2 separate regions of the Homo sapiens genome follow, and region 2 is linked to region 1. A link means that fine-mapping ties the variant in region 1 to the expression of a gene that starts in the linked region. Tissue or cell type: stomach. Region 1 holds a variant in brackets; the other region holds the start of a gene. All regions are shown on one strand. Distances are from middle to middle.

The links. PIP is the estimated chance that this variant, and not a neighbour inherited with it, causes the effect.
Region 2: it holds the start of LRRC8B, and the variant in region 1 is fine-mapped to the expression of LRRC8B in stomach (GTEx, PIP 0.95).

The regions. Positions count from the first base shown.
Region 1 is chr1:89,892,280-89,900,389 of GRCh38, forward strand. The region is part of intron 2 of LRRC8D (leucine rich repeat containing 8 VRAC subunit D); the gene reads left to right. Among named protein-coding and RNA genes, the nearest start is that of LRRC8D-DT, 75 kb to the left of the region's middle. RefSeq lists a silencer at 1,951-2,245. The variant C/T (reference allele first, on the strand shown) is at 4,124.
Region 2 is chr1:89,520,462-89,528,571 of GRCh38, forward strand. LRRC8B (leucine rich repeat containing 8 VRAC subunit B) reads left to right here and starts at 4,368. Exons shown (of 6, transcript NM_001369817.2): 1 at 4,368-4,561. RefSeq lists a silencer at 4,232-4,691 and enhancers at 5,393-5,894, 5,895-6,396.

The DNA of each region.
Region 1 (8,110 bases):
ATCTTGTTTGTTTTAGCCTGCCTTTTCAACCTATGGAGATCTTTTTGATACCTGATTCTGTTCCCCAGCCCATTTGCTATCCTTTTCAGCATTGTGTGATTTAAAATTTTTCATCTTCCAAATGATTGATAACAGTGTGGGATAAGGTAGGACCAAGTTCCCCGCTTGGCATTATTTAGCACTCTAGGTGCAGTCATTTGACCTGTAAGGAATCTACAGAACCGTCACTAGATTGATATTTCCTTTTTTTTTTTCTTTTGAGACAGTCTCGCTCTGTCGCCCAGGCTGGAGTGCAGTGGCACCATTTCAGCTCACTGCAAGCTCCGCCTCCTGGGTTCACGCCATTTTCCTGCCTCAGCCTCCTGAGTAGCTGGGGCTATAGGCGCCCGCCAACACGCCCAGCTAATTTTTTTGTATTTTTTAGTAGAGACGGAGTTTCACTGTGTTAGCCAGGATGGTCTCGATCTTCTGACCTCATGATCCACCCACCTCGGCCTTCCAAAGTGCTGGGATTACAGGCGTGAGCCACTGTGCCTGGCCGTAGATTGATATTTCTGTCAAATTCACAAGGTTATTATATGTAACTTTGTTAAAACTTTCTTGAAATCAAGTAAAATTCAATCAGACAAAGTTTATTTGAAATTACATGTCCTCAGCTTTCAGTTGACATGTGGTTAATTTGTTCATTCATTCATTTATTTATTTATTAAACAGATAATCTATAAACATCTATATGACAGGTACTGTCCTAGGTGCTGAGAATAGAGTGTGAACAAAATAGACAGGATCTCAGCTTGTGGATCCATAAGCAACCAAAAACATAAACAAGATAATATAAAATAGCTGTAAAAGCTATGAAGAAATGAAATGAGATGGGGACTAATCAGGAAAGGCCTCAATGAAGAGGTGCCAGCTGAGCTAGGGCAGGAGTGTTGAGAAGAAGGGAACAATGAGAAGATCTGGGGAATGAACAGTCCTGCAGAGGGATGAGCACGTGCAGAGGTCCTGAGATACAGGTGAGCTTGGCATATTCAAAGAACTGAAGGGCAGCCAGTGGGCGAAAACATGGTTATAGCTTTCAGTTACTTGAAAAATATTCGTTATCACTTTTTTCCTAGAAAGCATCTAACTTCATGCTTAAAATTTGACTTTATTTGCTCATTTAACTAGGAAAAAAAAGGTAGACCAGAATTGCAAGGGAATTAGCATATTTCCCCAGGAACAAAGTATTCTGAAAACAAAACAACAGAAAATACTGGAAATTATGCATTTTCAAGATTGATAAGAATGCTCTTGTTTTCCCAAGCATACATTTTTTCCCTGAAGTAGATACAGTGGAACCCATCTATATTGTAATGGGACATACGTTATTGTTCTGAATGCTTTAATATCTAGTATTTTAGAATGTCTTTTATACTGGATAGTAGTGTAAAATGCCTTGAGACATGCAGTTGGTTTTTAGACTTAAGACCTCTTGATGATTGCAGACTTACTCTTTTTTCAGTAGAGCATAGTGGAAACTAAAGAGTTTTTTAGATGAATATCTGGAGTAATTTAATTACCATTTTAATTGTTCTGTATTTGCAGATAATTGGTGATGTGAGTTTTTGACTGACTTGAGATTAAAATGTGCTAAACCCTTACCTGATAACTCTCATTAGAGCAATATATGCTGGAAGCAGAGGGCTCTTGTTATGGACTAAGTGTTTATGTCCCCCACAAAGTGTTGAAATCCTAACCCCAGTGTAATGGTATTAGGAGGTAGGGCCTTTGGAAAGTAATTAGGGCATGAGGGCTCTGCCCTCATGGATGGGATTCATGCTGTTATAAAAGGGACCCCAGAGAGTTCTCCTGCCCTTTTCTCACCATGTGAGGATAGACAGGGAAGTCAGCTGTCTGCAATCTGGAAGAAGGCCCTCACCAAACTCGGCTGTGTTGGTACCCTGATCTTAGATTTCCAGATTCCAGAACTGTGAGGAATAAATGTTTGTCATTTAAGGCACCCAGCCTGTGTAATCTGTAATAGCAGTTCAGACTAAGACAGCCCCATATTACTCACTCTCCATCTGAGAGTGAGCCGAGCACATAGCATTCTTGGCATCAGTAGCACAAGGGTATGAAGGGAAATGCTTGAAGATAACTGGAATGTATAGTAGAAATGTGATTCCTGTTTATCTCTGAGTGTTAACTTTCAGAACATAGGAAATTGAGATGCTCCCTTAAACATTCTTTTAGATAGCAATTTAGGGAGGCAAGCTGAACTTAAATCTTTTAGGAAATTGGACAGAGTCATAGCCCATTGGGTTTAGAGGTAGTATAAGAAAGGTTGCTGACATTATTTGGCTAAAGTGAATGGAGAACAGAGTAAACCAAGAAGATAGTGTTCATGTACATCATCAGCACAATACTGAGTAAGCTGAAATATAGAAAAATAATGTATGCTTACTATTATTGGAATGTGAGTGACATAAGTAAATTTCATAAAGGGAATATAAGTCACCACTCAAATAGTTGTTTCTTTCCTTTCCTTAAGATACAAGTGTTCCATATCTTACGGGTGAGTACAATATTGGCTGATGTGATACGGAAAATTCTGTCAAGTTCGGAGACAGCCATAGTGTTGAAAGTTCTGAGTGCTTTCAACACTATCAAATAGTGCTCATATTCTTTCATTGTCAGATTCCATGACCCAAGTGTGTCTGTAGGTGAAGGTCTCCCACCCCCACCCCACCCACTGATCACTCAGTAAGCAAGCAGGCTGATGTCTCAGTGCCTACAGTGAGCAGTGTTAACTGACTCCTGTACTTGCTTGTCTGAGGACAGACAGGTGTGCTAGATAATTAACATTTTTTGGAAACAAAATTATTACATTATCCTAAAAATAAATCAACATACTGGGAACACATGCAGGACTTTTGTATTACTACGCAAGAAAAGATAAGCCTACTATATTCATATAATATATTATGAAGTCTGTTAGATGACCTTAAATTTGTTCATTTTTCTTATTTGACAAGAGTTTTAAATCCCTATGTATTTACAGATTTGGCAGACTTGGTATGTTTTCTTCAAGCTATCATAAACAAGCAAATGGCTCAGAAAAATTCCCAGCTAGGTAATTTTATCTCAAATATCTGCTTAATTTCAAAGGCAACTTGAGTTAGCCCTGTGCAAACTCAAAACACTGTGTGTAAATATATGTGTAATAATTTTTTTTCTACGTACCACATGTATCTTCTAAGTAGCATAATGTTGCTTTTAAAGATGTACTGTTTGTTTTTTTACTTTTAATTTTCTATGTGAACAAATTTGACATGTACTTTTAAAAATTAAAATATCTTCAAGTTTCTATTCATATATAATATTTCATTTTAGGCAACAATTGAACTTCTGAAAAGTTGATGAGACGTTGAACTTCTGTAAGCTAAATTATTTTTAGATGTCTTGAAAGAACTCTAAGAAGATGAATAATCATACCAATTTTTTTCATGATTTTAGTAATCTCTTTATCATGTTTCTTAAAGCAGTTTACATCTATGTATAATTTGTGAGGCCCAGGATAGAATGTCTCTGAGTCTGATACTCCAGAGTAGCATACTCAGCTCTACAGGGAAAACTTTTCCATAGGAAACATCAGAAAAGGAAAGGTATGACAGCACATGTTTATTAAACATATTACATAATATATGTCTCCTCCTGACAGGCAAGCGTTAGAACCTTTATTAGACATTGTCATCTTAATATAATGTAATGTCCACAAATACATTCTCTAATAGACAAGAAATGATACATGAGTTTTAGGTTTCCAGACTAACAACCCAAAATCTATGGCTTAAGTGGCTTTGTATAAATACATGGCCAATAACGGCATATTGCCGGGACTTGGAGCAGAGGTAAGAGTGTGGGGAGAGGATCAGCCTTGAAGACTCCCTTGTGGGTGAGTGGGAGGGTAGAGGGGTGGATGAAGGTGGTAAAGGATAGATGGGAAGAGGCCAGGAGGTGGGGAAGGGAGGGGTCGTAAACTTTGGTTCTGGAGGAGCCCTTAGAGATCGTGTCGTCTGACATCATCATTGCACAGAAGGGGAAGCAAGATAAAAATGTTTATGTGCCTGGCTCGTGGTCA[C/T]GTAGCTAGTGGCCAAGCAGGACCTAGAATGCAGATTTCTGACTCCCAGCACACTTTACACACTGGGAGTTTGCTAAGAGTAGCTGAGAAATACACACAGTGGCTTGGCAGGGAGAGAGAGGCTGTGAAGACTTAACACAGGTGAGGGGTGTTCAGGCCGAGGGTAGGGCAAGCTCCTGTGTGAAGATCAGGGTTTACCACCCCTGGAGGACAAAGGTAGTGAGAACCCAGCACAGAGGTCAGGACTGTAGTCAAATAGATTAGCATTCAGGACAGAGTCCAGTCTAAGAGCGGGAAATCGCCATATCACACTAGTGATGATAATAATTACTCTTTCTTTCTCCCTTTCTGTCTTTCTCCCTTTCTCTCTCTCTGTCTCCTCTCTTTTCTTGTGAATCATAGTTGTTAATAAACAAGCTAAATCTATATAGTGCGAAATAAACATATTCACATATTCTCAAAAAAAATTACTACTTGTTGGATGCCTATTGTGCATTAGACATTAGGCTAGACACTTTATTGCAGCATAATCATTTAATTGTCATAATAATCCCTTTGGAAAGGTGTGGTGGTTCAGTTTTTGCAGATGGGGGTGCTGATTGATATTCAGAGAGTTAAATAATTTACTTGAAGTCAGCAGAGTGTATTAGAAACTATTCATTACTTTGGGACCAGAGGGGCAGAAGGAAATCCAAAGGAAGAGAAGTATGCAGATGTGTTCAGATACACACTTTGATGATAACTATTGATGTATGTACATCTCTCTTGGCTATGCTATAGGAATACCTTAAGTAATTCAGTGGCAATATACCTTCTTGCTAGTATTTTAATAGTATAGATCGGTTAATGAATTATCTTAGAAACATTATACTTGGTGTATTCTGTTGCTTTATGGTTTCATTTTAGGTTGAGTATTAAGGGAACACAGTATTTTAATCGGGACTCTGCCAGTGCTTTTATCTACAGGCCTGTTGCCATTTTTGTCTTCTGTGAAATTTTTGTCACAAGAAAGGCGAGATTATGTTTTTTCCTAGCAGATTGAGTTGGTGTAGTATATTCTTGGTTATCAAAATACTTACATAGATTTGAGATTTTGAATTGGTAAATATTCATGTGGTGTTTAAAAGCATGATACATATTGCACAATCTTAATCCCATTAAATTGGATGCTGTGTCTATACACACGCAGGACCTAGGAGGACACGTCAAACTGTAAACTGCTTGTGATTGTGGATAACTTTGTTCTTTGCTTCTTGTGTTTTTCAGTTTCCTATCAGGCATATATTAACTTTTTTTAAAAAAGGTTATTTTTAATAACCTGAAAAAAAAACTGATTTGCTGAAGGTCAATAGTTTGCTCTGAGAGAGGACACCATGATTTGAACTGGTCTGCCTTAGCCAAATCTCATTTGATTTCTGCAGTGCTATGTTGCCCTCCCAGAATCACAGATAAAAGTGGTGGGCAGCCGAGGTGCAGTGGAGGTAGAGGCTGGGACAAGGTGCATCCCGGTGAGTGCCTGGTACAGGGAAGGAGCAGCATGGTCATGGTGTGATAATTGGAGGCCACCTCTCCTAGCACAGCAGATAACAGAAGGAATTCCCACCTAACCGCCATACTCGCTCCTAAGCAGCTGAATAAAGATGTCTCTGATATGTGGCTGAACCTCTGTATGTGGTTTAGTGCTCACAGGCAGCCGATACTGAGAGGAAAAACCTTGGGTTCCTAAAACTTTTAAAACATTGAATACGAGCCAGTAAGCAGTCATTGGTATACTGCAGTTATTGTACCAGAGTTAACTGATGCTGTAGAAGTGAGGCCACCACATTTATCAAATCTAAAAGCAATTCATGGGAGGATGGTGAAAAATGGAAAACCGCAACCTGATGAGGAATCGTGAAATATCTACGTGTGGATGTTTAGCCTTGTACTCCACCTCTATGGGGAAGGGAAGGAAAGCGTTATTCATTGAGCATCTCACAATGTTCCAGATATTAGATGCTTGCCAATCCTCGCAAATTCTACGAAGGAAATACTCTCACTTCCTGTGGATCAGGACATTGAAGCTCAGAAAGAGCTCATTTGCTGTGGATCACATAGCTAGTAAATGGATTCACACCCAGATATGCCTGAATTCAGAGTCAAGTGGAAGAGGAATTAGACTTAAATCTGAGTGGCCCCAGCAGCAAGGCTAGGATCAGTGAGTGTAAAGGAGAGATCGGTTAATTTCATAGACTGATCCAAAAGAACTTTCTTGTAATAAGTGCTGTTCCCGAAATCAAGCAAAGTACCTTAAACACAGATACACATACACAAACAGCTTTACTAAGATTTAATTTACATACTGTAATATTCACCTGTTCTAAGCATACAACTACAAAGTACCTTTTAAGGTAGTACATTTCCTGTCATTAGAAATGTTTGTGCAGAAAGGGCTGGAAAATCTCCCAGATAGAGTAGAGGAATGTTGTGTTTCCATCTCTATGAAAGCCAGTGTTGAGTAACTCAAAAGCAGTGTCCATACTGTGATGTGCTGAGTGGCTGTTTACTTAAGTGTTTTAAATGTCGCTGGATGTAAAGGAAAGGAAAGTTCCAAAAGGTGTTCCAGTTGGGCTTTTCATCTTAAATTTAGATCAACGAGATGAGCTCTTCAGCTTCGGAAACACCCAGGCCTTTCATTCTGGCTGCATACTACAGTTGCAGAGGAACTTTTCAACAATTCAGGTGTAGATTCAAGGGCCTACCCTAGGTCCACTAAGTTGGTACCTCCGGGGGTGTGGCCTAGCATTACATTAGTTTCTGAGGCCACCCCGCATTATTCTAGGGTGCAGCTGTGCTGAAAACCACTTTCTTTGGCTGAGGAGAGGCTCAAGTGTGCCAGAGGGTCATGGAGGGTCAAAGTTACAAACCAATCCCATTCTGCCGGTGACCTGTCTTTTCTGCATGGTCAAATCAGCCACATCCAAGTTACTTCTAGTTCGCCAGCCATTGCTGCTGTGCCATGTCTGGCTCTTTGAAGATGTCTGACAGTGTTGGCAGTTAACCAGAGACAGTTTTGTGACTTAATAACCAGATCAACTTTGTATGTAATTCATGTCCACCAGACATTTTTGCAGAGCTTTAGGATGGAGAGGACCTTGAGGAAAGAATTAATGTAAACTGCATCACCTTAGCTGATCATCATTCCTGCTTTTAGAACAATTTGAACAATTACACTCACATTTGAAAATTTTGTGCATCTGTTCTTCAGTTGTGCAGGTCACAATGTATAGGCCCACATCAAAGGATCAATGCTTTCAGATTTGTCTTCTATGTGGAACTTGTATGGTTAAATGATTATAATGTAGTAAAGTGAAAATCTAGTCTGGGAGCTAGAGGGTGTCAGAACTGATGGTCCTGGGGATCCTTTGAAACCTTTCTGAGCTTGTTTCTTTGTCTGTAAAATGTGACCAACAATTCCTGCCTTGCAGTATCACTCTAAGGATTCAGCTAAAGAATATGTGTGATAAAGTCTTACAACTATGTATTTATTGCACCCCTTCCATGTGCTGGGTAGTATACTAGTCCCTGGGGAAACAAACGTGAATGAATTATGATCCCTGCCCTGGAGAATCTTACAGCTTTAGTGAAGGAGATAGACTCAAAACCAGATAATTGTACGAGAGTGTAGAGGGGCAGAAATGCACAGGATACTCTGGGAGCATCAAGGGAGGATTAAAAGGACTGGGTTATTGGTGTAGAGATTTCCAGGAAGGCTTACCATAGGCACTGATGGCAGGCAAAGACAGGTAATTAACAAGGTAAATTGGAGAAAACTGGATACTTTAGGCAGAGGAAATGCAATGGGCAAAAGCCTGTGGATGAGAACCTGGTAGAGGGACGATGTGTTACAAATGCTGATGGTGTTTTATTCAATTCTTGCTTTCCCCTGGGAGAAATGACTTTTGGGTACAGTGCATCAAGGAAGATTCAGAAGGTAAAGGTGGTGAG
Region 2 (8,110 bases), 370 kb before region 1:
CCAAATTGTAGTGATTGTTTCATTTTCTATTACTTGTGACTTTGCTTGTGTCACTGGATAGAGGAACTGGCCACACTTACTGTTCATTCTCATCCCCTTTATCACCTGAGTGTAAAGACCCTATTGAGATGTTGTAGAAACAGAATATTTTCATATTGGCTTCTTCACCAGATTCTCAGCTTGCCAAAAAGAGCCAGGAGGCTGGACTGGTTATTTTAAGATAAAGTTTAGGGCCAATAAGGCAAAGGTAAAGGATGTAGTCCTTCTAAATCCTGCTTCTGTTTCAAAAGTTTAAGTTCCCTTCTCTCCATAATGCATTTTCTGACTACTTCCACCCATGTTATTCAATCTTCATTTCCTTTGAGCAGAAGATGCCCTTGATTGTTTTCCGTGTTCAACTAAGTTGTGGGCTGCTGGGGTCAGGGACCAAGTTTTATGCTTCTTTGGTATCACCCATGATGTCTAGCACACTGCTAGGCACAAAATAAGTGCTGTGAAACAAAAATGGAATCTCTGGACCCCAAACTGACTAAGCCAAAAGAAAAGCTAAGCTTGGGAACTGAGTCACTAAAAAAACTGCTTTCTGTTATTGGAAAAAACTACTTTAAAGTTCATATGGAACCAAAAAAGAGCCCACATTGCCAAGTCAATCCTAAGCCAAAAGAACAAAGCTGGAAGCATCATGCTACCTGACTTCAAACTATACTACAAGGCTACAGTAACCAAAACAGCATGGTACTGGTACCAAAACAGAGATATAGATCAATGGAACAGAACAGAGCCCTCAGAAATAATGCCACATATCTACAACCATCTGATCTTTGATAAACCTGACAAAAACAAGAAAAGAGGGGAAACGATTCCCTATTTAATAAATGGTGCTGGGAAAACTGGCTAGCCATATGTAGAAAGCTGAAACTGGATCCCTTCCTTGCACCTTATACAAAAATTAATTCAAGATGGATTAAAGACTTAAATGTTAGACCTAAAACCACAAAAACCCTAGAAGAAAAGCTAGGCAATACCACTCAGGACATAGGCATGGGCAAGGACTTCATGTCTAAAACACCAAAAGCAATGGCAACAAAAGCCAAAATTGACAAATGGGATCTAATTAAACTAAAGAGCTTCTGCACAGCAAAAGAAACTACCATCAGAGTGAACAGGCAACCTACAGATTGGCAGAAAATTTTTGCAATCTACTCATCTGACAAAGGGCTAATATCCAGAATCTACAATGAACTCAAATTTACAAGAAAAAAACAAACAACCCCATCAAAAAGTGGGTAAAGGACATGAACAGACACTTCTCAAAAGAAGACATTTATGCAGCCAAAAGACACATGAAAAAATGCTCATCATCACTGGCCATGAGAGAAATGCAAATCAAAACCACAATGAGATACCATCTCACACCAGTTAGAATGGCGATCATTAAAAAGTCAGGAAACAACAAGTGCTGGAGAGGATGTGGAGAAACAGGAACACTTATACACTGTTGGTGGGACTGTAAACTAGTTCAACCATTGTGGAAGTCAGTGTGGCGATTCCTCAGGGATCTAGAACTAGAAATACCATTTGACCCAGCCATCCCATTACTGGGTATATACCCAAAGGATTATAAATCATGCCGCTATAAAGACACATGCACACGTATGTTTATTGCAGCACTATTCACAATAGCAAAGACTTGGAACCAACCCAAATGTCCAACAATGTGGCACATATACACGATGGAATACTATGCAGCCATAAAAAGGATGAGTTCATGTCCTTTGTAGGGACATGGATGAAGCTGGAAACCATCACTCTCAGCAAACTATAGCAAGGACAAAAAACCAAACACCGCATGTTCTCACTCATAGGTGGGACTTGAACAATGAGAACACACAGACACAGGAAAGGGAACATCGCACACCACGGCCTGTTGTGGGGTGGGGGGAGGGGGAAGAGATAGCATTTGGAGATATATCTAATGTTAAATGACGAGTTACTGGGTGCAGCACACCAACATGGCACATGTATACATAAATAACTAACCTGCACGTTGTGCACATGTACCCTAAAACTTAAAGTATAATAAAATAAAAAATAAAAAAATTTTAAAAACCTGCCTTCTGTTGTTACCAGGTAGCTGCAACAATAGAAGGCCACATATCTCCCCAGATAGCCTCCCTCACAAATTGCTTACAGTGAAATGCCTTGTGGGTCCCTAAATCTTTCAGAATGCATATCCCTCCTATAAATGAGCCCTAAAACACAGTTCTGTTGAATCTCACTCTGACAATAACAGCTCATCTTCATATGTATGGTATAAGGACAAGACTTGGAAATCATCCCTCTGCCCACCCCAAGACAAATTCATAATTGACTTTCCCCCTATTTTCACATTTATCTTATGTAAAATGTAGATTTACTGAGCATGAGAGGAACACATAATCAGTATTCCTCTACCCACTCTTCACACGCAAAATGTGAATTCACTGGGCACTAATCAAAGCCTCACAAGAATGTAACTTCTTCCCTCATTGCCTACCTTCCCATTTCCCTTTTTTTTCTTTCTTTTCTCCTTCCCCTCCTGCTGGCTCTTTCCCCTTTAAATACTGAAGTCCTCAAAAACTCTCTTTGCAAAAGGCACAGATCACAGATGTTCCTGTATTTGTGCTTTCTCCTGGGGAATGTCCTTAACCTTGGCAAAATAAACCTCTAAAACGATTGAGACCTGCCTGTCATTTTTTTGGTGCTTAAAATCCATGATGGAATTTTTAATCACTATTTTAGACTTGGGTAAATCTGGCTGTGAAAGTAGTGACAGAGTCTTTTAGAATTTTCTTCTACCAAAAATAATTAATCAGAAAGTCCCTGAGAGAATTTCAGATACTCCTGTAAGGATCAAACCTAAATTTAAATTAGACTTGTAGATCTGTGCATACCCAGTGTCTCACACATATAAACTCAATAAAAATTTATCGAATGACCAAGTGAAGAAATGTTCTTTCAGCTTTTCCTTCAAGACTCAGAAAAAAGATATCTGCAGTTCCAGAATGGACTGAGTGAACAAGAAAAGAACAGATCAGTGACACAAAGACAGCCTTCTTTTTCCCTTTCAGGGTGACTCAAATTGTAGTCCTCATCTGAACAGTCTGAGACACAACTCTTGTCTCATATTAACTCGATAGGGCATTTGCTATACTCCCATTTACACAAACTGCTCAGATGCCCCAAATGCTGAGTCTGTTCGTCTTCATTTTATTCCTTTGGGAGATGCCGGTACAAACTTGTTTTTTCTTTCTTTTTTTAAATGGAGATGTGACCACCATAGCAACTAAAAGACATAAATCTTGCCTAATTGAATCAGTGTGCTCAAGATAATAGCCAGGGCAGAGACTGAGTTAAAACTGGGGTAAGGGTGAGAGTGGGGAAATGGATGAGGATGATAAAAATATTTATGTCCCTAGAATTTGTGGGTTTGGATTAATTCTGTTTCGTAAGGAATATTGTTGGCCTTCAAATGCAGTGCCACTTGGGAGAGAAGCAAGCGGGCAGTAGTTGAGGTGTCTCTGCAGTTGAATCGCAGTGAAAGGCAGGTTATGAGTATAGGGACCGCCCCTCGGCCATGTGGTCCCCTCCCTATCCTGAGGATAACGACATTTGAGAGAAGCCAATGGTATTGGAAGGCCAGAATCGAACTTAAGCCGCTTAGTTGGTACAACTGTAAACCCTCCCTCACAGAGGCTGGGCCCTGCAATCTTTCTAAGCAGGGTAAAGAAAAGTAAGGGGACTTCCTTTTCGAAGAGGAGGTTCCCGCGTGCTGCACCCGACCTTTCCCTCAGGGCCCAACACGCGTTATATAAATGCCAAGTTACTCAGGGACGCACACGTGAGAAGGCTGGGGCCCGACACACGCGGTGTAGTGCCGAAGTCACCGGTGTGGCGCGCCTGGGGGACACGCCGAAGCCCATTTCCCTCCCGCTTCTGGAAAGCAGTCCCCGCTCTTTCCAGCTGCTCCGCGGGGCGTATGGCTGTGCGCTACCTCCTGCGGACCCCAGGCTGGGCGAGGGGGCAGCGATGGCCACATGGCGCGCTCGGGGAGATGGCAGCTGCGCTTTGTTTCCAGCAGTGATAGGTGAGTCACTGGCTCCCGCAGCCCCAGAGCTGGGCAAACACTCAGGCCCAGGCAGCTGAAAAATTCACAGCAGGAGCAGCTACCGAAGCGACTGCAGCCTCTTCCTCCTCTTCCTCCTCCTCCTCCTCCTCCGCCACTGCTACCGCCACCACCGTGGTAGCCGCCTCCGCGCCCTGCCTCCGCCCCGTCCCCTCCTCCTCCACCCGCGAACTTAGTCAGCGGTTCGCGCCGCCGAGCGCCCATTGGCCAGCGGAACGCGTCGCGTCACAATGGAGCCGGTCGGAGGCGGCGAGCCGGACAGCGCCGGGGCTTCCCGCTGAGCCCGCAGCCTCCGGCAGCCGGGAAAGTGCGGGCGCGGGGCCGCAGCCTGCCCGCCCGGAGCGGCCCAGGAGCACGCCGCGGGGAGCGCGGGCGTCCGGGGCTGGAGTCGCGCAGGTAGGTCGGAGCGTGACACCCCGGTTCCAGGAGGGCGAGCCGCGCCGACCGAGGTGGTGGAGGAGGAGGACCGGATACGGGGACGCAGCAGGTGGGGCTGGCCGAACAGGTGCGGTTACCTGTTCACGCCTCACCTGCGAGCCAGGCTGCGGGCCGGTAGCGCGGCTGCAGAGACGAGTGGCCGCTTCGTTGTGCTCCCTGCCTTCGGGAGAGACGGAGTCCCACGCTGAGAGGACCTCTCCTGTGTGCTGGGGTCATTTGGAGCAAGAGGTGTGGGCGGTCGCGCCGAGACGGTCACCTCTCTTTCCCCCGGGAGTCTCGGCGTTGCACCTGAGCGTGAGTCCTCGGGGCGGGGCGGGAAAGGGGTTCCGCTTTCCCAGGCTGGCGTCTCGCTCCAGATGAGCGCAACTCCCCTGAGGGTGCCCCCATTTGGTCGCTCTGTTTTGCCCCCTGCGCTGGCGCTGTTGGGAACTATTTTATGCTCTTGGGAACTATTTTATGCTGTTGGATACGCGTTGGTTGCCTATAATTTGGTGGTGGTGTTGGGCGTTGATTTGTTTGAGAAAGAAAGGGCAAGCGTTACCAATTTAAGAAGAAGACTCAAGAGTTTCCCCTGAGCTTAGTTGAGCAGGTGCTGAGAGGTCAGAAGGGAGGAGGCTCAGTATTGGCTCATTAATCTGTGTGCTCAACTGACTTCCTAAAGTCCATAGATTGCCTTTAGTTAGATGACATTTGTGGAAAACTTTTTTTTTCTTTGTGGTCAAAAAGACACCCCTCTAAAAGAACAAAACCGACATGTGAACTTCCTTGAATAAATTCACTTCGCCTAAAGACTTCAAACAAACAAACAAAAAAACACTCCACTGGTAAAAGATAACAGTATGAACATTTTAAATTGTAGATATATAGCCAAATTAAAACAGGCAATTTGTTCAGCGTATATTAAGAAGACATTACGTAGCATGATTTTTATTAAAAGACAACCTATTTGCAAATGATATAGTAGTCTTTGCAGAACACCCCAGAAATCTTAAAACAGATTTATCTTTATCAGATGGTTCTGTCCCCTAAACCTAGGTGTAGGAGTGAGGATGGAAAAGAAGTCAAACTGCAGTGTAATTTTTTAAACAATTCCAGTACCCTCTATGTGTACAGGCTACACCTCCTGAGAACCCCAAATGCTCTTTGTTTTGTTTCTTTGTTTTGTTTTGAGACGGAGTCTCACTCTGTCGCCCAGGCTGGAGTGCAGTAGTGCGATCTCGGCTCACTGCAACCTCCACCTCCTGGGTTCAAGTGATTCTCCTGCCTCAGCCTCCCGAGTAGCGGGGACTACAGGGGCCCGCCACCACGCCCAGCTAATTTTTATATTTTTAGTGGTGGCGGGGTTTCACCATGTTGGCCAGGCTGGTCTGAAACTCCTGACCTCAAGTGACCCACCCACCTCGGCCTCCCAAAGTGCTGGGATTACAGGTGTGACCCCAAATGCTCTCTGAATTGTGGGTGCCGAGGTGACTTTCTTTTTCTCCTGGCTTTCCTTGTCAGCAGCTCTACTCAGAGAATATAAAGTGACAGCCAACCCCCAAGGTAATTGGGCCTGTGTAATTTTAGAATATAAGCCCTAACATGTCTGATATTTCTGTAAGCTAAAAAGAGGTCTCTTGAATGGGGGTGATGTTGTCATTGAGTGCACCCTTGGGTCATGGCACTTTCCTTATACTTAGTATCCCCAACAACATTTTTAAATCTGCATGTCGGAATTAAGTTTACCATTCTTTGAAATGTGTTCTCTTTTTCCTCAATTGGTAAGGTGTTCCAACATGTTCAGCCTATTATGAATCTTTTCACATTTTGAATGATTTCATTTGACTAGTTGAGATTTGCTTTTTTAAACCTCTTCTCTACCACTATCACCATTTCCCATTGCTATTTTAATTTTCAGAATCCTCAGAGTGAAAACACCAACAGTAAGTAAAATGAAAAGGGGCTTAATAAAACTTAAAGGATACTAAGCCTTCCAAGTTTTTTAGACTAATCCATGTATTTTCCTGTAGTGGCCTGAAATTTGTTATTTTTTGTTGTTTTCTGAAGTTTAAGGGGAAAAATATTTTACAATTTAGAACATCCTTGTTTTAGCCAATGTTTTTCTTATAAACAAGGGTTTTTGTTTTTGTATTTTAGTTTTCAAATTCTTCTAATAGTACCTGAGTATTTTATGTTTTCTGGACTTTTTACTATTCATAGCCTGTTTAACCCAATCCCGGATTTTCATTTGGTGTCTCTAAAGTTGAATTCTCTAATTTTACTCTTATTTCTCCTTCCCAGCATCCTTCTACCACACCCTGATATTATTAGAAATGAATGCATTCTGATTCTGTCATGTTATTACACACTTGGTGGCATGATTTGCATTGCCTTGCATGGAGCAGGTTCTCCACTGCTATCCTGACTCCCAGAGCACTGGGTACATCAGCAAACAGTTCAGACCTGTGACCATTCAAGAGGAATTTGGGAGACCCAGTTATAGTGTAGAATTTATTTAACCATTTGTAAAATACCTTCTAATTTGTGTCATATCTGTTTTCATATTGCTGCCTTTTATTGCTATTGCCTACTTTCATTTTATTCCCCATCTGTATTTTCTAAACTTCCTACATGCCTTTATTATGACTTAATTTCTCTGGTGTTTAAAATAATGCCTTTGGCAGACATAATAACCTATTTTTCTTTTTCTGATCATTAAGGTTGATCTTAAGTAAAATTAGGCCTAGCTCCAATCACTGATCTCTCTCCTAAGTTCTTATCACTGTGGTTCATTTAGAAATTGAACAAAGGGTAACAATAAACTCCCTGTTCTATGACTGCCTTTCCTTTAGGATTCTACTCAATTGCCACACAATTTACATTTACTCCTTCAGTGCTGCTGTGAACCTGAGTAAAGGAAATGAATAAAAATGAGTTGTCAGGGCTTCAACCTTGACCTTTCCTTTTTGCCTTTCTGACCTTTTTGCTGCTTTTGATATGGGTCATGTGATTCTGCTTGTTTCTTTCTAGACTGTATATATTTAAACTTCATCTCTTGCTTTTTTTAAATTTCAGAATCCCTTTAAATTCTTTCTTCTCATCTGTCATCCTGTGACCATTTCCAGGGCTCCATTCTGCAATGCCTATTCTTCAGCTAACAAGCACAGCATATTTCACAGACGCTGCCAGCTGCACAGCTTCTATTTCTCTTCCGTATCCAGCTCCATGCAGGTGACTGAGATCTTCCTCTGCTCATCTCTCATGGAGACCACATTCTTTATTGTTGAGTAGCATATTCCTTTTGATTTCTTCTCAGGTAGCAGATTTAAGAGCATATTCAAACTTTCCTTATTTTCTTCTGTCAAATTCCTTTTCAGCATTTTGAAACTTTTCTCTTTTCAAAATCTCTTGCAAATTACAAGCAAGAGTTCTTCAAGGTTTTACCTAAGAGAACAAACTTCATAGACTGACAGGCCTGATTCTGAACTCTGTGCCATCACTTTGGATGAGTTGTGGATTAGTTAAAAT